6 separate regions of the Homo sapiens genome follow, and regions 1, 2, 4, 5 and 6 are each reported to be linked to region 3. The links are microRNA targets in miRTarBase. Many come from high-throughput screens and were not tested one by one. Region 3 holds a microRNA gene; each other region holds the end of a gene's coding sequence.
What was found. The annotated mature microRNA hsa-let-7a-5p reads UGAGGUAGUAGGUUGUAUAGUU and lies in region 3 at 1,630-1,651, opposite strand. An mRNA with a match to its seed (bases 2 to 7 or 8) in the 3' UTR can be bound and repressed. Matches are read on the target gene's strand: a 7mer-m8 pairs with bases 2 to 8, a 7mer-A1 pairs with bases 2 to 7 and ends in A, and an 8mer does both.

Region 1: the mRNA of RAD18 is a reported target of hsa-let-7a-5p. Seed matches in the 3' UTR shown: 7mer-m8 at 890-896.
Region 2: miRTarBase lists PHF6 as a target of hsa-let-7a-5p. The part of its 3' UTR that is shown has no 7-base or 8-base seed match.
Region 4: miRTarBase lists CCNT2 as a target of hsa-let-7a-5p. The part of its 3' UTR that is shown has no 7-base or 8-base seed match.
Region 5: miRTarBase lists TAB2 as a target of hsa-let-7a-5p. Seed matches in the 3' UTR shown: 7mer-A1 at 524-530.
Region 6: the mRNA of CNTRL is a reported target of hsa-let-7a-5p. Seed matches in the 3' UTR shown: 8mer at 2,735-2,742.

Annotation. Positions count from the first base shown.
Region 1 is chr3:8,877,966-8,882,253 of GRCh38, forward strand. It overlaps RAD18 (RAD18 E3 ubiquitin protein ligase), which reads right to left. Exons shown (of 13, transcript NM_020165.4): 13 at 1-3,494. The coding sequence ends at 3,392. Among named protein-coding and RNA genes, the nearest start is that of RAD18, 83 kb to the right of the region's middle.
Region 2 is chrX:134,424,524-134,428,811 of GRCh38, reverse strand. It overlaps PHF6 (PHD finger protein 6), which reads right to left. Exons shown (of 11, transcript NM_001015877.2): 10 at 3,482-3,611; 11 at 22-3,151. The coding sequence ends at 3,482. Among named protein-coding and RNA genes, the nearest start is that of HPRT1, 33 kb to the left of the region's middle.
Region 3 is chr22:46,110,122-46,114,402 of GRCh38, reverse strand. MIRLET7A3 (microRNA let-7a-3) reads right to left here and starts at 1,654; the gene lies at 1,581-1,654. It overlaps LOC124905135 (collagen alpha-1(III) chain-like), which reads right to left. Exons shown (of 2, transcript XM_047441696.1): 2 at 475-4,281. MIRLET7BHG (MIRLET7B host gene) reads right to left here. Exons shown (of 5, transcript NR_110479.1): 5 at 475-4,281. MIR4763 (microRNA 4763) reads right to left here and starts at 837; the gene lies at 746-837. It also overlaps MIRLET7B. RefSeq lists an enhancer at 3,093-3,626.
Region 4 is chr2:134,954,099-134,957,098 of GRCh38, forward strand. It overlaps CCNT2 (cyclin T2), which reads left to right. Exons shown (of 9, transcript NM_058241.3): 9 at 1-3,000. The coding sequence ends at 550. Among named protein-coding and RNA genes, the nearest start is that of CCNT2, 37 kb to the left of the region's middle.
Region 5 is chr6:149,409,356-149,413,394 of GRCh38, forward strand. TAB2 (TGF-beta activated kinase 1 (MAP3K7) binding protein 2) reads left to right here. Exons shown (of 7, transcript NM_001292034.3): 7 at 222-2,252. The coding sequence ends at 364. Among named protein-coding and RNA genes, the nearest start is that of SUMO4, 11 kb to the left of the region's middle.
Region 6 is chr9:121,176,972-121,179,971 of GRCh38, reverse strand. It overlaps CNTRL (centriolin), which reads right to left. Exons shown (of 44, transcript NM_007018.6): 44 at 2,362-2,809. The coding sequence ends at 2,786. It overlaps RAB14 (RAB14, member RAS oncogene family), which reads left to right. Exons shown (of 8, transcript NM_016322.4): 8 at 1-1,839. Among named protein-coding and RNA genes, the nearest start is that of RAB14, 23 kb to the left of the region's middle.

The DNA of each region.
Region 1 (4,288 bases), not on the chromosome of region 3:
GCAAGGCCAAGAGACTGAAATGGACAGGAAGGCAGGGCTGCCCTAGCACTTGGCAGGTTTGCATCTTGGGGCTATATCGGGGATGGCGTCCTAGGCAAGGTAGGACTTTCCAGCAGGGCCAGCCGCAGTGCACGTGACAGAGCAGCGGTGAGGAGGGCAGATGCTGGTAGAAGTCTGTCGGGGGGAGCAGCAACATATGCAAGCATGGACTTGTATCTGTATTCTGAATATCTGAACCTGGGGATACCCAGAAATACACAGAAGGAATGGAGAAATGCCCCCTTTAAGGTCTCAATGCAGGTAGGGAGTATAAAGTCAGTATCATGGGTGTTAATGTAAATACTTGTTTACAGCCTCAGATAGTTGTTCTTAAGGATGTCTAAAAACAGACTAAAAACCAAAAAAAAATTACTGAAATGGTAAAAAATGTAATGGTTGTGGTTTTCCCTCTTATGTTCATACTTTCATAATATGTACATAACAGACAGAAGTGTTTCTCATTTGAATAATTGCTACTTTCTTTTATCGGATGCTAAGAAGTTTGAAATCCATTGTTTTTGGGTTTTTTTCCAGAAACAGTTCTAGCCTTCTCTATGTTGTCTATCCCTGTTGACACATCAGTCTTTACCATGTAATTTTGTTTTTAAAGGCATACCTCCCTCTATTATATACATGGTCTTATGTGTATGAATTCTTTTTTCAACTAGACCAGTAATCCTCAACATGAGGTCGAAAAAGAAAGACGAGAGTAGAGGATGAAAGGACGGCCTGGCATACTAGGCCATCTAAAGTGCATCCAGCAGCTCACCTGCACCCCCACAAACCATAAGCATCACTGCCATTCTGAGCTGATGTTGATGGGAGATGTTATAACTTTGAGGGGAGTGAGGAGGTAGAAAGAGTTAATAACTCTGAATTACTGTAAGTTTGGTGAGAAACTGTATTTTCACTAAAAGGTGAATTTTAGAACCAGAAGTTTATCAGTTTCAATTTTGGATCTATTACTTACTCTAAGTTCCTTAATCTTTGTCAGATGGATATGAACATACATTTCTTTCAATGTATGAATATTAAACATATGCTAAGTGCTAACAGATAGTGCTCAATAAATGCTCTTTAGACCTTACTTTTCAGGTAGACTTGGGAGTTCCTTTACATTACAGGTTTCTCAGTCTTGGCACAACTGACATGTTAGACTGGATAATTCTTTACTGTGGAGTGTTGTAGTCTAAAGCGTGCCCCTTAACCCCTACCACTAAATATGTTGGAAGTCTTAACTGCCGGTATCTCAGAATGTGACAGTATTTAGAGATAGGGCCCTCTATCTAAAAAAGAGGTAACTGAAGTAAAATGAGGCCATACGCATGGGCCCTGATCCAATGACTGCTGTCCCTACAAGAAATCGGGACACCAGTCCTGCACAGTCATGTGCACACAGAGAAAAGACCATGCAAGGACACCATGAGTGGAAGCCAAGGAGAGAGGCCGAAGAAGAAACCCTACTGATCTTGGACTTCCAGCCTCCAGAATTCTGAGAATACACATTTCTGTTGTGTAAGCTTCCCCGTCTGCAGTATCTTGTGACGGCAGCCCTGGCAAACTAATCCATGAGGGTTGGGTGTTTAGCCTCATCCCTGGCCTCCACCCATTGATACTGGTAGTACCCCTCACCACCCTCCACCTCCAAAAGTGTCTCCACACATTGCCAGCTGTCTCCTGGGGGGCAAAATCTTTCTGCCCACCCCACTGGGAACCATTGTTCTAGATGATCTTTGGCCACCTTTGTATTCCCAGTGTCAGCACAGTGACAGACATAGATAACCAAATATTTGCTGAATGAACTCATGTGCCTACTTTCCCAATCTTGGGTCTCACCGCTCCCTCACAAACTCCTTTTGCTGCAATTAAAGTAATAATTACTTCCAGTTTAATTTATAGACTATATAATTTGTCATGAAACAAACAGTTTTCATTTTGACATAATTTCTGACAACTCAGTGACATAAATATATCCATGTGAGCTCCTATTTTGTTTGACATGCTCACTTACCTCACATCAGTTCTGCCGATAGATTTGGTAAGTGGTGCTTTTAGTTTCCTTAATGCACCCCTCAGGATTTCATGCAAATGAAATTATTATGACAAATTTTTCTATAGCCATTTCTAACACAGGGAACTCATAAAGAAATCAAATGTCTGCACTTCACTGTGAAAACACTAAACTCTCAGCCATAATGAGACTCCACACATTATCAGAAACCCCAAGGCATACCAAAAAGACAAGGTCAACGGAGACAGTCTTTGGAAGGGGAGGTCATAAATGTTGAATCTGGCAAATCATAAATTTCTTGTCTTAACATTGCCGCATTTACTATCATCTCATTTGAAAGCTGATGTGTTTGGGTTGGGTGATGGCAGAGGGGTGGGAGTTGGGGGATGCTGGCTCTGAAATGCCAGAGAGGCATTAAGAACTCTGGAAGCATCTGGCTACTGGTAGACATTTTACACAGATAGCAATTTCTGACCAATCCATTTCAATGATTTCTAACCCATACTCAACTATCCAGAGGATACTGTTTTAAGAACATTATTGTAAACTGATACTCTCTATTCATTTACAAAATTCATTCATTGCATACTTTTTGTTTAATAGCTTGGATTCAGTGTTACAGATTTGATTGACCCAAGTGAAAAAATACTGACACTAATCATTTTTAAGTGCTATTTCAGAAGAATATGCGCAATGTTTCTAAGTTATTGTGACTTTGTGACTGTCGTAGCTTTAAATTATAATACTAATATCCTACTCTGAGAAATGTGTAAGACACAGGTCTAACAAACAACTACATTAACCTCGGGCAACAACCATCATGGAGCTGCTGTAACACAGGCATGGTGGTGGCGTGCATCGGTACTTACACACACCAAGGATGTGAACTGACATCCCGCCTTTCCAAAAACAAACATTTAACTCAACTGTTTCTTGCAATAAAGAAGTTGAAAGAATCCTTTTGTGAGGCTGGATTCTCCATGGAAGAGAAGGAGAATGGCCTAAGGACATTCTGAAATTTAATTATCAAACCAAACCAAACCAAACCAAATCCCTGTGCCAAAGTGCCAAAGAGTCTACCTCCTCTGCAAAGCTGGTACCTGTGTGAAATGTCAGTATTTTTAGAGAGAGATGTTTTAGAGGCAGGAGGCAACTGACCAAGTAAGGATATTTTGTAACATTTTTCCCCTCTGGAAAAGCAGAAAAGAATGAATATCAGCTAACCGTAATATTTAGAATTTAGCATCTTTCCTTGGGCATTTATAAATAGAAAATCTATCTGTGGCAACCAAAAGTACGGTATTCTAATCAATGCATTTGAAAAGTCAGCAAAAGCCCACATTAATTCCTATTACGCTTGTTTCTTGGTTCAATCTCAGCACTTTCAGCGGCTCTTGTGCGGCGATTCTGTCTTGGACTTATTTCTGTGTCTTGAAGATCGTTTCTGAAGACAGAAAAAGGAAATGACATCTTGGAAAGTAATGATTATTGTACAGCAGTTTCTAGTTTACAAGTGTTTTCACACATATTATTTCATTAAAACCTCGAAATAATCCTCTATTCTGTTGATGAATTCATAATTGTTATTATTAGTATTTCCACTTTATGAATTAGTGAGTTAGCAAAGATCACAGATAGTAAATGAGCTCTGAACCCCTTTTTCTGAATTAAAATTTAGGAGTTTTATGCTTCTGTTTAGCATGTAGAGGGCTGGGAAAAAACGGCAAACAAAAAGCTGCTCCCATCCTAACAAGAAAAAGCCAGACAGTCTAACAAAATCTTAACTCTGTTTGATCCTTCAGAGACCTGAGGTTTTAAAGGAACTAAGAAAGTAAAATTCCAAAGAAAAATATGCCCCTCCAAAGATGGGCCACACTTCTCTCACTTTTGGCAGAGTGTTGGAGAACGAGGTGGCTGCCATACAAACAGGTAAGAAGAATCAGCTAAGATTTTCCTAATTTCTTAAATACAGGCTAGTATTGCAGGCCCCTGACACAAGGAGAGTCTGCACACACTTGCCAGCTCTTTTCCACGAGCCTCCGTCAGGTGCTCACAAGAAAGACTGGGAGCAGGACAGGTGAATGGAGAGGGGCCACTTCAGTGGCTACGGGGGACAGGAAGAAGTCAAGTCCTGCCTGCTCTCCTGAATGCTTCTCTCCCATGAAGCATAAGCTTTTCAGTTGCTGAGGGAAACACAGGAAACTCCCCCTGGGGCTCTAGCAAAGACCTATGGCCTCT
Region 2 (4,288 bases), not on the chromosome of region 3:
CACAAAAAAGACAAACAAATATGAAAGTCATAAGTCATTTATTGAATGAATAGTATATGCAAGAATACCAATAAAAGGAAACTAATACTACAAACTACAATTTTGAAAATAAAGCCAATATAACAGGAACAAAATATACATAACATGAGAGGAATGTTTGATTTTTGACCCATAATGCATTCCTTATCTTTACAATTAACCTAAATGTCTGTTAGAACAAAACTGTATACCTTGGTCTAACTTCAGCGCTTTTTTTAAAAAAGCAACAACACTCTAGAACACTTTTTCTTTTGCTTTGAGATATTTGAGATTCACACATTTGTTCAAGTACACAGATTCTGATTCAATAGCAGATCTACAGATCTTGTTATCTCTTAATATCTTGAGTAGCATGTACTTCTGAGCAAGTACTATCTGAAATTCTAAAACTGCTGATTCTTGAAATAAAATTTACTTCAGTTGTGGGTTTTTAATAACTTGAGATGAAAGTAAAATTCACCCCCTGCCCCCCTCCCCCAGGAACAAAGAGCTCTTCTTAAAAGTATAGAAACTCAAGTCTATCTTTCTACTCTAAAGAACATTTCCTACTAACATTTCTGGTAAGGCAATAAATGCTCCAGAATAATCTTCAATATACGCTTGCAAAGATTACACTGTTTAATATCAATAACAAAAAACAAAACAAAAAAAGAAAAAAGAAAGAAAAAAGACGCTTCAAAATTTCAGGCTAAAATATGCATAAAAGACAGTAACGGCAGTATTTTTTGAAATGATGTAAATGTTATATACTTATCAAATAATGTCATGCTTATTAAAACTACAGTTAAGGACTTAAGAGATGTACAGTAAATACACTGCTGAGGTCCATTTTTCTAAATATTAATACCACAATGTAATTACTACCCAGAAGATGATGATGCTACTTGGGAACATAAGTACTGTACAATTTTTACATTGTAAGGCACTTTTACTCAGCATGTGACGAAAACATGATTAGAGAATCAAAACATTGGAGGTTTACAACCAAACATGATTTTTCATGTGAATTCAATTTACATTTGAATTTTTAATGCGAGATTGTTTAGCCAATCACACCACAGTGAGAAAAACAGGTAGTCAGCCACTTATCTAGCCAACCAAAAGGTAAAGTGCTATTCTGGTTGCTAGTGGCAGAAAAAGGGCTGAAGAAACCCATACAAAGTCATACATTTTACTACATAACAAATTCATCAACTGACAGCTATAGTATTTGAACTCCTTTATATAATTATTGACTGGCCATGATTACCCCCGGCACCTTCCATTTTTCCTAAAAAAAAAATGATTACAGTAGTTGTCCAAAAATGAAGGAGCTCTGTTGTCCCATGGGTAAGTCTATGGCACACAATGTAAAAAATGATCTAGACACAGTGATTTAAGGATTTTAAAATAATGATTTTCAAGCTGTTGTAAGGAAAGAAAGTACAGATCCTTTGGGAGAAGTCACATAGCTTGGTAAACAAACATCTAGATCTGTCCTTGCACTTCAAGTCATGAATTTTGAAAATCACATACACACAAAAACCCAATGGCATATTAAGAGCAAAAAGAGAAAACATACAGGGCAACCCACTACTAAAGCTAGTTTCCTTCTAAAAATAGTAAAAGATGGTTAAAATAAAAGCAAGCATTGAGTCCCTTGATTTAAGTAAATGTGTGAATACACACTTGACAAACGTGATCTTAAGGGACTCGCAGTTTAAAAAAAAATCAGTCATTAAGCACAGTGTAATTTTCCACCTGTTACATTTTTAAAATGCTGCTCTATCAGCTGCAGAATATCTCAATGTACAGTCAAGTTAACATTATTATTTCTTATTTAAAAATCTGCTTTATTGTGGTGGCTTAATAATTCAACTAGTCAAAATCCCTCCCCTTGGTACTGAGGTGCTATGGTAGTATCAGGCAGACCACAACTAAAGTTATTTGGTTTTGCCATAAAGAAATGCATAAATGTGCTTCAGCAGGTAAGTGGAAGAAAATATCACTACCTAGAAATGCCAGTGTGAAAATCCTTTCTAAAAAGCTGGGTTCTTAGGCTTTCAAAAACAATTCTGACAATCGATAAAACACCACCAAGCCCTACAAGAAGAAAAGTAGGGCACAAAAGCCTATTTTATAGATAACCAAAGCAATGACTGAAAACATTAAAATATTAAATAAAGTTTCTAAAATAGTGGTCACAAAAGTAAAAATAAATACTGTTTTATGCAAAGACTTTTTTACTCCTACAGCACATGAGACCTCCTTACGTACTGTGCGCCAATATGTGAAGTGTTCCACACAACAGGGCACTTGAGAGGAACAGGTTTCGGACATGGTGTCTGAAGTCCTTAGCAAGCGGTAACCCTTTCTTTACATCTTAAAAACGTTTAATTTGCTGTTGCCAAATGTTAGTTTAAACTTGAAGGACTCAATCATTTTGCCAGAAGTCCTTTGTATAACATGGAAAGAGAGGAGGTGTGCTGTCAAGAGAATTTTGGCAAAAGCACTGGAGCTCATAGCTTATCATTACCAGTTGCCTGAGTCCATGCTGGTCAGTGAGAACAACTTTAACAGGAACCAAATGAAAAGCTTTAGCATACTTCTTGGAAGAGATTTTTAGCATGTGCTGTCAAAGTCAAGAGAAAAAGAAGGTTCTCTTCATTTCTAGCCTCCATTACTTGAGTATGAAAAAAAAATCCACAAATTACCATGTGCTGCCACCAGTGGCATGTTTGCATTGTAAAGGAAAATTTGCTTATGCTTTCCTTTGAGTATGGATCCACTAAACAAACTTAAATGCTCTAAACAGCAGAGCTTTGTTCAGTCCAGAAATATAGCTTACTTCGTTTCGTCTGCTTTAACTGTTGACACTATACACAGGGTTAATAGTGTTTCAATTGCTTCCCAGAAACTGCAAACTATAGCTACGTAATATCAACATGTCAAACTCAGCCTTCTAGTGAGGGCTCATAAAACAAACAAGACATTTTTAGGCAGTTCAATGAAGGATCTAAGAGTTGGGCAGTAAAAAGTTACAAACCCTTTTTGATTTTAGAAAACAGTGAAAAAAGAATAGTAGTTATGGATGTCTTATTCATTCCCAGTTTTCTAACTCTGTCCCATGAACCTGTTTAAAAGATGATAAAAAAATGTAAAATATGATGCTTGAGGGGAACACAATCAATATAATGTTATTGAGGAGTGTGAATATCTTATTGATTTGACATTACAACTACACTTATTGATAAAGCAGATAGCTTGTTTTTATGGTTACAAAATCAGCTAGTTAAAAAACAACTACTATGCAAGCCTACAAAATCCTCAGCATTTTAGTAACATGCTCTTAACTAAACATAATAGGATTAAAAAAAATCTTACTGCATACCATTACTTCAACATGTATATATCAGTGTGTATTGTATCCTGACAACAGATCCCATATAATTAACTTTCATACCTAGTTTCCATTAAGTTGCTGCTGAGTTAGTTGTTGCTGATCAATTTCTACTTTTCCTCGGCTTTTACTCTCTCGTTCCTCATCTTCTTCATCTCTCTCATCATTTCCACTATGATTTTTACAGTATAGTCTACAATGATGAAAGACAAAAATCTCAAAATGCTTTGTCACTGCTGATGAACATTCCTGCCAACATTAGTGGATGAGGCTAGTGCCCATTTAAAACATGGGTTTCCTCATCCACACTTTAAAAAATACTCCCCAATTAGTTACAGACCCATTTTTATCTAACAGATAGGAAAACACACTATTATTGAGATAATAAAAGTTCATCTGAAACAAAATCTCTGGTTTAGGATGACAGTTATCATAAGGCAATTCCTCATTTTGCCCAATGAGATTAAAAGCAAAGTTTTGGCCAACTTAAAAATACCAACCTTCAGGTATATTGATGAAATAATCAAATTCTATAAATTTGTTTCATATATTTAATTTAAAATCACATTTCAGGAAATATATATTCTATCTATACTGCTGCCTTCTGCTCACATTTGATGAAACAATTTTACTCAAACTCTTCAAATGGTTTTTCATTATTAGCATCCTAGCCTTCACTGGAATACCTACATGAGCCATCCAACAGTTTTCCGGCACTGCATTTGGCTATGTCTCTTTTAATCTAGACTGGTCCTTCCAACTTCTTGTTTTTACACAACACTGACTTTTTAGGATGAGATTAGACCAGACAGTCTGTCAACTGTAGCAAATTCTGGACTTGTCTAATTGTGGTACTGTTTTATTTGGTTC
Region 3 (4,281 bases):
GAGGCCTCCCAGGAGAATGGGTGCACTTTTGGGATGGCAGTCTGTCAGAGGAATTACGGGTGCCCTGGAAACTGTCCTGAGGGAGGACGGAAGGACAGGCACGTCCAGACTTTGGTCAAGGCACTTAAGGCACGGAGGTGGCCTCAGGAGCCAGGACTTGGCAGTGCTCTGAGCTGCTGACCTGGGGCCTTGGTGGCTGCCCCGTGGGGACCTCTCCACCGGGCCTGGGTCCCGGTGTTCAGCCCGCCTGGCTCAAAGGCAGCACGAGAGGGCAGAGAACGGGCTGGGCCTGGGATCCTGAGCCCAGGGTACAGCACGGAGCCAACTGAGGACTCTGGAGGCACCGGGAGGCGTGAGCAGACAAGTCTCATGACCTGGAACAGCTCGTGGCCAGGGGCCTCCACACTGTCCCGCAGCAGACGCGCCCCAGAGCCCAGTCCCTGGGCTTCCAGAATGAAAGGGGCCAGTTCCAAGTTCATGGTCAGAACAGCTTTATTGAATCTAGCTCCCAGATGCCCACCCAGCTTCGGCTCAGGCCCCCTGCAGGTCACTGAGGTGGGGGGCAGCCCTCCCGTGGGGTCGTGTCACTGAGGTAGGGGGCGGCCCTCCCATGGGGTCGTGTCACTGGGCTCCTCAGGGAAGGCAGTAGGTTGTATAGTTATCTTCCGAGGGGCAACATCACTGCCCTGAAACCACACAACCTACTACCTCACCCCGCCAGGCCCGGCCTTGCACTGCGGGAGGGCCCGCCGCCCCCCGCCCAGCACCAGCCCCTGCCTGGCGGTCCTCAGTCACCAGAGCAGGAGGGCTGGGCAGGCGCAGGGCAGGAGGGACAGGGGAGATGGCACCCCAGGAAGGGGCAGCTGCTGCTGGCTGGTCTTGGGAAGTCCCTGGCTCTCTGGGCCTCAGTTTCCCCAGGTACAGAGGAGCCACTGTCTGCCTTCAGATTGTGCCATGTGGGACCCAGTGTATGCAGAGCTGTTCCTCTCACTTCCTGCTCAGGAAAGGTGCCTTGGCCTCCCTTCCTCCACAGGCAGAGGCCCTGCCACTGAGCTGGCCAGGCTGGGGCACGTGCTGGGAACCTGGGGTGATGGGCAACGCCAATACTCGCAGCCCTGTGACCTCCAAACGTCTCGGCCACCCCTGGCCCCACGGTGCCTTCTCCTGGTGCTCAGTGGAGGGTACGGCTCAGGGCCACCCATGAGCCTGGGCCTGATGGCGGGGGGAGTGTTGGGGAGTGTTGGGAGACAGAGGTCAGACAAACAGCTGCGTGGATCGCCTCTCTCAGTGCGGCTGGGGCAGAGGGTGGGGTCGGCTCAGCTCTCCTCTGCCCTCGATGCTCCACACTGCATCTCCTTCCATCCTCATTTGCCTCCATTTTACAGAGGAGGAAACTGAGACCCAGAGAGATCAGGGGCCTGTCCAAGGTCACACAGCAAGTGGCACCTAGGCCTGTCAGACTTCTCAGTGTAGGCGGCCCCTGCCCCCGACTGCTGCCAAGGCTGCCCCCAAACCTGGCCCTGCCCGCTCCCAGCCAGGGTTCCAGACGCTCTGTCCACCGCAGATATTACAGCCACTTCAGGAAAGACAGTAGATTGTATAGTTATCCCATAGCAGGGCAGAGCCCCAAACTATACAACCTACTACCTCACCCCAAAGGGCAGTCGGTCTTGGTGCCGATGGGACTCCGTGGCTTCCAGAGGCACCTCCTGGGGACGCGGGAGGAAAGAGGGCTGAGGAGAACAGGGGCTCGAGGCTCGGCAGGCCACACGCACCAAGGGCACAGGGATTCTGGCGGGCAGGCGCGGTGGGCGCAGGGGGCTGGGACGCCGAAACCCTGGGAGTGGGGACATTGTGGCCAGCACCAGCAGGGACGGGAGCCTGCAGGAAACCACCAACCAGAGAGGGACGAGGAAGAGAGAAAGGAGGAGGGAGGGAAAGCCCTGGCGGCATTTTGCGACGCTGTCACAGGCAGCCGGCTCCCTCTCATCTGGACAGGAGTGGCCATAATGTCCCCAAGGAACTCTGCACTGGAGACCCTAGGAGGAGGGCTGTCATCTGTCGAAGGCCAGCAAGACACAGGCATGCGAGTGCCCACCCTGCTCGGCCCCCTCCCTCCCCGCACAGCGCCACCAGAAGCAGCACTCGTGGCCCCCAGGCTGGCTGAGTAGCGGCTTCACGGGCGTGCCGTCTCCTCCCACTGGGCAGGCAGGCATCCCTCCCCAGGGGCCCTGGTTCTGGCCCTGCTGTGCAGGCTGGCCTGAGCTGACCGCACTGCAGGAGGTGGCGGGAAGGTTCTTTCCTTCCTTGAGGGAAGTGGCCTCTAGGGGAGAGCAGCTGGGGGGGTAGTCACAGACCCTCAGGTCCACCCAGGGTCCAGTGCCTGTCCCTGCGGGTGCTGGCACACTCAGTGCCCTAGCTTGGGACGCACAGGGCTGGGACAGAGTGTAGCATGAGGATGACACTGAGAGGGCCTCGGGGCTCCCCTAGCAGGGGAACGTGGCGAGAGACGGGCCTCCCTAAGCCCCGCCTATCCTGGGCCTGGTGCAGGGTCAGCCTCAACAAATGCTAATTGTGGCTACCACCTTCCTGGGGAAAAGCTGAGGGGGCAGATACGACTGTCAACCCCTCTTAAACAGGTGAGGAGACCGAGGCCCAGAGAGGCAACGTGACCTGGATGTCACACAGCCAAGGGGGCAGCAGAGTGAGGTCCAAATGTCCTGCTCCCTGCCAAGCTTTTTTTTTTTTTTTTTTTTTTTTTTTTGAGATGGAGTCTCACTCTGTCCCCCAGGCTGGAGTGCAGTGGCGCGATCTCGGCTCACTGCAAGCTCCGCCTCCTGGGTTCACGCCATTCTCCTGCCTCAGCCTCCCGAGTAGCTGGGACTACAGGCGCCCGCCACTACGCCCGGCTGATTTTTTGTATTTTTAGTAGACAGGGGGTTTCACCGTGTTAGCCAGGATGGTGTTGATCTCCTGACCTCGTGATCCGCCCGCCTCAGCCTCCCAAAGTGCTGGGATTACAGGCATGAGCCACTGCGCCCGGCCTGCTTCCTGCCAAGTTAAACGGCATGCTAGCTCTCAGCTCCCCATGCCCAAGTGGACTTGAAAGGTCTACCCCAGCCCTCCTTCCACAGCCCATCCTGAGCAGGCTGCCTACTCCAGGCAGGCCCCAGGCTGGGCTGGACCATTTAATCCTCACAGCCCTGGTAAGGCTGAGATCACGGATCCCACTTCATAGTGGAGAAACTGAGGCTCAGGGGGTGCTGAATCTCTAGCTCTAGGTGTCTTTGCTCTCAGAAGTTGGTCGGGGAGGGGGTCTGCTTGCTCTCTGGGCACGTGTCCTACTCCCTCCCGAGGGGCACTGGAGCAAATCCCAGGTCCTTAGCCAGCAAGGAGACCGCTGAGGCTCACACCTGGTGCCGCCCACCCAGAACTGGAGACTGAGATGCTGACTCACCCAGGAGTGGGGACCAGGAGGGCCCCGATGCAGCCCGACCCTCCTCTGTCCCAGCATCATCTCGCCTGGGGTCGCGAAGACCCCGTGTTCCCTCAAGGCCTCAGAACAAAAGCGGTATGAGAGGGTCTGGGGGTCCTGCTCCCCTGCTCCAATTCTGGGTCCCCTGGCTGGTGGGCAGGACCAAGATGTCCCTAAGGACTGTCCGGGCAGAGCCAGCCAGGGTGGGGTGAGGGCTGAAGGGACAGTGGCTGAGGGTCTCCTTGGACCCTCCCAGCTGTGGTGAGTGGCCGGAGGGGGAAGATCAAGGCCATCCCAGCTCCTCTGAGCTGAGGCTGACTCAGGCTGTCGCACACCTCATGATCAGCTCCCAGTCAGGTGGTCCACCCTGAGTGTCCCTGCGTCTGCCCCCATCTGCACCCCCGGGAGGTGCCTTGGGGGAGGCTGTGGGGTGGGTTGCACCCTAAGCACGCACTCTGGGCTCCTGACTTAATCTCTGAGACCCCCACCCCCTCAGGCTGGACTGGCCACCTGGGCTGGCTGGGTCCCCTCACACCTACTGGGTTCTGACTCATGGTCCCAGCAGGCTAAAAAGGGGGTGGGGCAGGACAGCCCAGTGGGCGGAGCTGTGAGAATCCAGGCCGGCCTCTGGGCTATGCTCTGGGCAGGTCTCATGCCCTCGTGAGCCGTGGTCTCCCCACTGAGGCAAGGGGTCAGCTGCCAGGGCCCCCGTCATCAGCCATCGGAGCTGGAGTGCAGGTGGGGACCACCATACTGATTCCAATGGCCCCAGCCTGGCCCCCACAGGTCCCCCAGGCCAGGACTTC
Region 4 (3,000 bases), not on the chromosome of region 3:
AAGCCCACATATTAGCAGAGACCATAAGGAGAAGCACAAGGAGCATCCTTCAAGCCGCCACCACACCAGCAGCCACAAGCATTCCCACTCGCATAGTGGCAGCAGCAGCGGTGGCAGTAAACACAGTGCCGACGGAATACCACCCACTGTTCTGAGGAGTCCTGTTGGCCTGAGCAGTGATGGCATTTCCTCTAGCTCCAGCTCTTCAAGGAAGAGGCTGCATGTCAATGATGCATCTCACAACCACCACTCCAAAATGAGCAAAAGTTCCAAAAGTTCAGGTAGTTCATCTAGTTCTTCCTCCTCTGTTAAGCAGTATATATCCTCTCACAACTCTGTTTTTAACCATCCCTTACCCCCTCCTCCCCCTGTCACATACCAGGTGGGCTACGGACATCTCAGCACCCTCGTGAAACTGGACAAGAAGCCAGTGGAGACCAACGGTCCTGATGCCAATCACGAGTACAGTACAAGCAGCCAGCATATGGACTACAAAGACACATTCGACATGCTGGACTCACTGTTAAGTGCCCAAGGAATGAACATGTAATAATTTGTTTAGGTCAATTTTTCCTTTACTTTTTTAATTTAAAAATTGTTAGAATGGAAAAATTCCTTCTGATCTAGCAGTGGTAACCCCTGCTGTTGCTGCCACTGCTTCAATATTTGTAAGTGCTGCTTTATTCTTCATTCTGAAAAGAAGAGATTATAGTAAACAAGTCTTTATCTCCACATATGATAGTGTTATAAATACTGTAAAAGCATGGAAGGTGCAAAACTCAGTATTTCTACAATTGCAGCTAAGAACATTAGGATGAATGGCTGGCTGCTTCTAGGAATATAAGATGCCTCAAGCATTCATTATTTATGATTTGAATACTGTAGCTATTTTTTGTTGCTTGGCTTTTGAATGAGTGTAAATTGTTTTCTTTTGTGTATTTATACTTGTATGTATGATTTGCATGTTTCAATGATAAAGGGATAAAACAGTATACTGACAACTGTTTACAAGAAAGTGGAGAAAAATGTACATACATTTTTGTATGTTTAGATATTACCGTAAATACTCAGGATTGGAGCTGCTTGTAAGTATAACAATATACAGAATAACTTTATTTTATCTTGTCAGAGTCCATCACTAATCTAAAACAAAGGTGGCACTTTTTTATGTTAACCTTAAACTCTAGGCCTTACTGGAAGCCACTGATAGGGGACACTTCACTACCAGATGTGTGCAGTGCAACAGATGGTCATATACACTGTGAGGCACTGAAATTTTGCCTTCAGAGGTTCTGACCAGATTGGCTGCTGAAATAGCCCCTAACTTTCTGAAGGCTTGAAGAGGAAAAAATAAAGTTTACATACTCTTGATGTGAAGTGCATTTAAATGTTTGTTGGCTTGTTGCAGTTCTATGAAACAGAGCTGTTAATAATGGTTATGTGGATTACTGTGATTTGAAAACTAAATTCACAATAACTTACCTAGTAGAGATTTAGTGAGTTGTTTCCTTTAAAGAATTTTACACTACATATTTTAATAGTAAACAGGGATCACTTTTCCTTTAGCATTCAGAATGACACCATATTCTTAAATATACTCCTTCCCTGAAGCGTGTTTGTGTGTGATGCCATATTTCTTTTTCAGGTAAATGTAGTCTTCCTTATAAAAATGAAATTAAACCTATGCTCTCAATTCTTTTATATTCTAACAATAAATAAAAAAGAAAAGATTACTGACTGTGCATTGTACCTGTATTTATAGTTTATGGTTATCAGGAAGCTCTGTAAGAAAGAAAAGGTCAGCCTCCCAGGCAAACCAGTAGTGGAGGTTTTACATTTGTTTGCACATCTCAGTATATTTCTGTTGAGGTAAAGTTTGCACAGTCATCTGACTTCTGATCAAGCATTAGATTTTAACTTGTTTAGATTTTGTCTTAAACACCAGTAATATGGCTCTTGTTTATCAGCTAATCTTGAATTTATTCTGTGGTAAATCTTTTGAGTTGTTGAGTATATTTGAGATTGATTGGATTCGACCTCTTGTTGAACTGAAAACTTAATTTTTTCTCTGTATTTTTGTTACAAAGCCACTGATACGTGCACAATTGTAATTAAGTATGTTGCAGTTGTAAATATTAGAGTTTAATCTCATGCTCTACCTTTATTTAGCAATTACCTAATTTGCCAGTAGCTTTATAATTTTTAAAGATAATTGTTCATTATTTTGTCAATGTTATTTGAACTTGGGGTACTTAGGAGCCTCTTTGTAGGGACTGTGCCTAGGTAGCATGTCCTAACATTTGTTCTGGTCTTGCATAACTTCAGTAATCTTTGTCATTATATGTAACTTTGTTGCTCTGTATGGCATAATATTGTATCCATAAACATGGTAATTTTGATACAGTTATACTTTTACAGTGGTACATAATCCAAGGACTAGTATAGAATTAAGCTGAGTGCAAGATGAGGGAGGGAAGGGCTTTCTTGGTAATTTAGATGTGAAACCTCTACAGAGCTATCATGTAAAAACTACATAAGGTGGTTGTGCTACTGTATAATTGGGGGTGATAATACCAGGAATTTTAATAAGATTTTGTAAAGAATATCCAGAAAAGTAGTGAACTTATTTTCAGTAGACATAGAAAACAATGTGAATATTTAAGGTCTGTGACTATAGTTAAACTTCACTAAGAATTTGCAGAATTGTTTTGAGATGTGTGAATAAAGGTAATTTTATTGAATCTTCATTGGTGCTAATGATGGACAGTTAAAAAGATAGCTAGTGTATATTGTTATGGGTCAGTACTTATTAGTACTTCCAAAATTGAATTTGAAATGCTATGTATTCACTTTTCACTCTGTAAATGTAATTCTTTACAATGACTTTATTTATTAAAGGGCAGCCAGTTGTCATTTTTACAGGATTGTGTGAGCTATTCAAACTCTTCAACCCCTGAACAGGGTATTAAGCTTCCAAAATAATGATGGGGATAAATATGG
Region 5 (4,039 bases), not on the chromosome of region 3:
GGAGGTGATTACATCATGTTCATGTTGTATTTCCCAGAGGGAGAAGTGCCAACTAGATAGAGGTTGGTAGTGATCGAGCATGTGTGTCAGTGTCAGCTAGATGCCCCATTTGGGGAGCAAGCTGCATCAGGCTGTGCACTACAAATGGTGTTTAAAGTTGCCTGTAATTTTTTAGACTTTGTGATTTTTTACTTATAAAATAATTTTTTTCTTTCTTACAGATCAAAGGTCCATCATCAAAACACCAAAGACTCAAGACACAGAAGATGATGAGGGAGCTCAGTGGAATTGTACCGCCTGTACTTTTTTGAACCATCCAGCCTTAATTCGCTGTGAACAGTGTGAGATGCCAAGGCATTTCTGAGCCAAATGGCCCTGTATCTTCTCTAAAACCACATCTAAAGTTCAAGAAACTAGTCTGTCATCGGGAAAAAGTTTCACTGCTACATAGGATTTTGTCAAATTGAAGGTGTGACAAGATGGTGTTCTGCTAATGTTAAATGTCAGCCCACAGAGCTAATAATACCTCAGTATAATGTCATGAGCAGTTGAAATTCATCACATGAAAAGTAATCTGCTGAAAGACTTGGTTGCCCACTGCCTAACTGTGTACAGTGTTACCAGTGTCCCATTATGGATAATTCTCAATATGTTAACACCTAGGTGTTCCCAATACCTTTTTCCCCTCATGTCACTACTGAATTTTGACAGGAGGAAGGAATAGAATGATAGCTTGTTTTATTTGTAAAGCTTTCAGTGAAACACTACATACACGAAGAAAAGGAACAAGGTTTAACTATTTAAGAACCATTTGCTGCCGCATAGTGCCATTGGATAGGGAAGAACTTCAGAAATCTGTGGTACTCTTGGCCTTGTCTTTGTCTTCCCTGAACGTGTCTCCACTCTGTGAAGCCAGCATCTAGGGGCTAAAGATGCAAAGGAAAGCAGCATGCATTGTCTGTACAAATGTGCAGCGAAATACCCCAAAGCTTTTCCTACTGTACAGATCTCTCGAGTCTGCTTTAAGTGATTTCTTTTCTTCTTGATTATTTTCTTATATTTCTATATGTATAGTGTAATAGCCTTTTGTTAACTAATTTTCTTTTTTCCTTTTAGTAATTAAGCACGATCATGTCCCTTTTTAAGCCTTACCTGAGAGGAACAATGCCTTAAAATAAAAAAGCATTAATGAGATGAAAGTATGCACAGAATAACTTTCCTCTACTTATTCTGTACTTTGCCCTCATGAGTTCCAATGTTGTGTGAAGACAGGCAGATGCTGCACAGTGAATTGCAGATGATATTACAGAAGTGATGTCTGTAGGTCACATTAAATACTGACTTGAGCAGTGGGTGACACAACACAGTGTTTGTCTTCCACAGGGAAGCTTAAAACAAAAGATATTTTTAACCCACTGACAGAACAACAAGGTTAAGCTTCATCTGCTTGGTGTCCCACAGAACTTGCACAAGCAGTTGTTATTGGGAAAGTACAGTCTCAAAACCAGCAACAGCAGCAGTACCTACAGCCCTTTTTTTGGAGAGAAGTTTAAATGCTTTACTGTTGGGGCAGTCCATTTCTAATCCTGACTTGGTGACAGTATCATGTGTATTTATAAAACAAGGCTAGCCATATTTAGGACAACTGAAGAAAAGCTGGAAAAAAAAACAAGCAAACTTGAACACTGAAGCAACCTCAAGCATCTCTTTATTTTGATGATATATTTTTGTAAGGAAAATATTCAGATGATCAGGAATGTATATAACTGAAATCAAGAAAAAGAACAGTATGCATTTAAAAAGACAGAATTATGAAATTATATGAGTGCTTAGAATGGGGCTAAGGGAAGTGCTGAAATAGAGCAAAGGATGGAAGATAATATAGACTACCACCCACTGTAAATGTTTGCAAGTGGCTGTGTTTTAAATGGGATTATTACAGTTGATCTCTATGAATGTCAGAGCCCTAACTTTCAGGCTTTGCATTTTGTATATGGGAAGAAATATGACAATCCTAGGTAATTAAACCATAGACCCAAAGCCCTTACGTTTGATGCAATTTATTTTTAAAATAGGCCTTGTTTTTCAGCTTCATCTGCAGTTCTATGTGAAGATTGATAAATCAGTTTTTACTTGTTTTATTAATAAAACGTAATTTGGATATCTTGAGTTGATGGTTTTGTGATTTAGCTGGGTAAACTATCTTTGTAACAGATAAGTTATTTATAAAAATTAAAAAACTTATATTCTAATGTGGATTTTGTGACTTGTTTTCAGTTTGTGGGACAGGAGATAATTTATACATCAGCAGATCATTTAAGCATTAATGGAAATCAGGGAAAACTTCTTCTCTAGAGTCTCCTTGTGACATTGTGATACTCAGCTGCATTTCTTGGACTGTTTTTATCAATTTCCCTAGACTTCTTTTTTCATAGTTTATGATAGTTTTCCCTTTTATTTCCTTTGGATTTTTCAAAATTTACCGCATTGTTAAAGACAAATGTGATTTATTGGACCATTTAACCTGAAGTAAACATTTAGTTAATATTTGTTCTGTCCCTTGATGTGTAATGCAGGTCATGAGGATGGTGGTGCTTCTCTTGAAGAGAACTTTTATATTTACAGTTTTCAAAAAATTACAAAAACTCAGGTGTTTTTCTCAGCCTGAAAAGAACAAAGTAGTATTTGCTGATCTCCCCATGATGCAGTTGTAGAAAGGTCTGCCTTGAGTGGTCTTTTAAACTTAGTAGAAAGGAAATACTCAATGCCAGTGAATATGAGGACTGGACATGTTGGGCATCTGGAGACCACTTTTGGGAACTTCATTGCCCTAAAACAGAATTACAAGTGTAAGAACCTCCAATCGAAAGATGGACTTCGAAGTATTTTTTTGACACAAATTATCCTTCATCTGTATGTTTAAAGGGGTTTGGGGGTAGAGGAATTGGCAGTTCATGTAAACTAGACTTCTCAGGAAAATTTTTATATTAACAAATTGTCAGCCAAATGTCTCCTGTGACAACTAATACGTTAGACAAAGATGTGTGTTATATTGCAGGCGTTTGAGGGAAAAAAGTTGAAATTTTATTTTTCTTTTAAAATCTTGTTTAACCTGTGTCATCTTTGATCTAATATTAATTAACTTTATATTGGGGAAATTATGCAGAAAATCAGCTCCATGGGTAGTCCAAAACTAATTGTTAGCTTTAAACCTACTTAATCAAAGCAGCTATAAATAGCAAAACTAGCTGACGTGTCACCAGTTTTCTCTATCCCAATGTAATGTTGACAGGCAATTCTAGTGAGCAGGGATAGATTTAAGAGGTAAACAGTATAAGATAAAATATTCAGACTGGGCACAGTGGCTCACACCTGTAATCCCAGCACTTTGGGAGGCCAAGGTGGGTGGATCACTTGAGGCCAGGAGTTTGAGACCAGCCTGGCCAACATGGGGAAACCCCATCTACTAAAAATACAAAAATTAGCCGGGCGTGGCAGCACATGCCTGTAGTCCCAGATCCTCTGGAGGCTGAGCCATGAGAATCACTTGAATTCAGGAGGTATAGGTTGCAGTGAGCCAAGATCGCACCACTGCACTCCAGCCTGGGCAACAGAGCACGACTCTGTCTCAAAAAAATAAAATAAAATAAAATAAAATATTCAGCCCATGAGTAATGGAAGTAGGCCATATTGCCGTAGAAAATAATGTAGTGACACTAGAGACTACTCCAGATTTAATATCTATATGCTGGATATCGGCATAGCTTCCCATATAACATCACAAAGTACTTCTATTCCTGTATGGCAAATGAATATATTTTTGGCTTCAGCTTTTTTGGTGCTACAATTTTATATCCATTTTACTTGAAATGGCTCAGCTGCATTTTAATTTGTATTGCTTCCATCTGAAAATACAATTAGACAACTGAGAGAAAAGGCCTAAGAAAACAATTTTGTAGTGAGTTTTTGTATTTGTTATGACCTCTCAACTTTATTATTTATTTATTTATTTATTTATTTTTTGTGGTGTGTGTGTGTG
Region 6 (3,000 bases), not on the chromosome of region 3:
AAGTTCTTCATTTCTGTTGATTTTTTTTATTGCATTTATGATTCAGTGGCTGGGAATTGAGAATTTATTTGAAATAGAATAGGTAACACCTCAGCGTACTATAGAAAATGCACTCAGCTCAACTGCTGTGTTTAAAATACACATTTTAAATCCCTCTTTACAGACACTAACATAAAAGTACATCTTTCTGGGTTGTAAACATGTGGTAGTACCAGAGTATTGTATAGTCAATGTTAAATAAAAGCCAAAACTGGAATGTGCAGAAAGTAGGCTTTGGTTAATTTGTGGATTCATTTTTATTTTTGTCTTTGTTTAACTTTTTAAAAAATAAGATTTCTGGAGTAGATTGGTATATTCTGTTAAAGACTTACAGTGATCCATTTTGCTTACACTGTTGCATCACAAGGGACTCACCCAGGGACCATGACCTGCTGGTGTGTGTGTATATTTACAAAAACAAAACAAACAAACCACCCATTGGGATATAAGGTAGCAATCACAAACTAAAGACTGCGGCTTGTTGAGGTGCAATACCCTGACTCCCAAAGTTAGTTACAGTGGGTTTTATTGTTTTTGTGACTGAAGGATTTATTCAGACTGCTGTACTCTTCATTTGATGTAACAAAATGCTATTAATCTAAATATTTGTAAATAAAGTACCTGTATCTAGATTAAATTAAAATTGGTTGCATTATTTTCTGAACTATAATAGGGTTTTTCTTCAGGTGAACAATTTGACGTGTCATCAGTTTTTATTGCAGCACTGTCCATATTCATTGTATAAAGAGAGGTCTACGTATGTAGCATATAAAACCACATCACTAAGTAATAGACCCACAGCTTTATTCTTGTGTTTACATTACCCTTGAAATGTTTTCAGTCAACCCTTTTCAGTGTAAGATCAGCACATTTGGTGGCTGATGCTGTTCTCCTTTGACTGTACCGGGAGCCAGATTCTATCATATGCATGTGTAATCCCCTGTAATACACTCAGGTGCTCACAAATAGAGCAGATTGTCATATTGTAACATGCGTGTGCCAGACACCGGGCAGTACACTTTGGAAAGAATGTGAAATCCTTTTAATTTTTAATCCATAGCTTACTGCTTGTGCAGTCACCTGCCTCTTGAGGTTGCTCATTGCCCTTGGACCTGTGAGGAGGCCTTCAGATTAGTAATTGGTGCTTAGTACTATTTATGCTTAAATAGATCTTCCAGTACAATGTTGAAGTCTTTTTTATGGATAATAACGTGTTTGATGGAGTAACTTATTATTTTTTTTTGGTTGGTGGTTTACACGTTAATAGAGGTAGTACAATTTCTTTGGAAAGGTGTCTTTTGAAGCCAGCTGTTAAGCTTCATACATTACCTCCCTTCTCAAATTCGGTAAGACAGTAGTTTTGGGGAACTTTTTTGCCCATGTGTCTTTTAAGTGTGATTTTAAAAAAATGAGTGGTTCAGTTCATTCCCCTAAACAGAAGAAAAGACCAAATAATTACCTTCCATTCCTCTTCATGTGGGAATATAGAGAGGGTTCATGTGGCATTTTAGAGAAAAGATAATTTATCCTCATTCAACACAGGCCCAGAAAATTGTGTCCCAGAAGGATGTCAGTAATTGTGACTAGGCCAGGCCTTTTAGCATTTTGCTAAGACTTGAAACAAAAAATGTAAATACAAAAGAAATCAAGTTTTGTTTTGAAAGATGCCTTCTAGAACTTACTGTGTATTAATAAATTGTCACTTTCATTGTCTTTATTGTAACTCCATTGATCCCGTATCTTAACGGTTCACGTCTAGCCAAATAACTGTTTTGGAATAAAAACCTTGGTGGTGAGGGATGACTGCACTGTGCTGCTCTGTATTATTAGTAACAGGGTAACATACCTGTTGTGACTCAAAAGCTGTCTAGTAGTGATCTAGAAAAGAGTTCCCGAGAATATTTTAAAACTTCTTATTACATATTTCCCCCTTGGGAATAATTATGCCAGACTGTGAGAGCAGTTGCTATTCTAGTTTTTAAAGAAATGTATACATCATGGAGTTGAGCTGTTAATTATGGTAGTTCAAAATCTGAAAGGCAACACAATTTGAATTTATCACTGGGTCACATTCTCCAAGGTACAAAGTTTTCCTGATTTTCCACCAAAGAATATGTTGGCTAAGGAAAGGCATCTGAAGCATAATAGTTTTATAATTGATGTATTTCCAAATGATGAAATCTTCATTGATAAGTATAATGTACTTCAGCCTCCAGGTAAAAGAAAACCACCTGAAAGATTACTTACTTGGAATAAGGTAAAAATTTGACGGCTTTTCCATAGAATGACCTGTGAAGTGTAAAGTCAGAGGACAGACCCAAGTTGATTGTTATCTTTTATTTTCATATGAAAAATAGATTTTAAGCAAAATTCAAAAATAACTCGACACTATAAATAAAGAGGGCCTTAAGTACATTCTTTTTGTTAATAAGATTTACCAGTTTGTAGGTTCAAATATGCAGTTAAAATCACTGTTTTTTTTTAAACATGTTACGAAGATTAAAAAAAAAAAGGCTCAGCCACATGTTGGTTTAAATTCCCATATGCAACTATTCCCATATGTACTATGTACAAGTGATTTATAAAAACATTGGCATTAATGGTACAGGCAAAGTAAACTACAGTGGAGTTTCAGAATCTCAGTTCACTGCATCTTGATTAAAAAAACCATGTGACATTCCAATTATGAAGTCAGTGAGGTAGTGGAGGTGTTTTCCTTGAATATATTTACACAAGACAGTATTCCTCATCTGGCTGAGGCATTCTTTTCCTACAGTAAGACAAAAGGAAGGATAAATCAAATTCTTGAAACAGTAAAAACAGTCTTAACTAAGTGATGGCATGATGGCTTATAGGTAAATGACATATTTGAGTACCTCTTTGGAAAAATGTTTTAAGATGAACCAGTGTACAAAATTCTGAGAGAAAAAATTAAACGGTTATTCTTAAAACTGCTAAAAT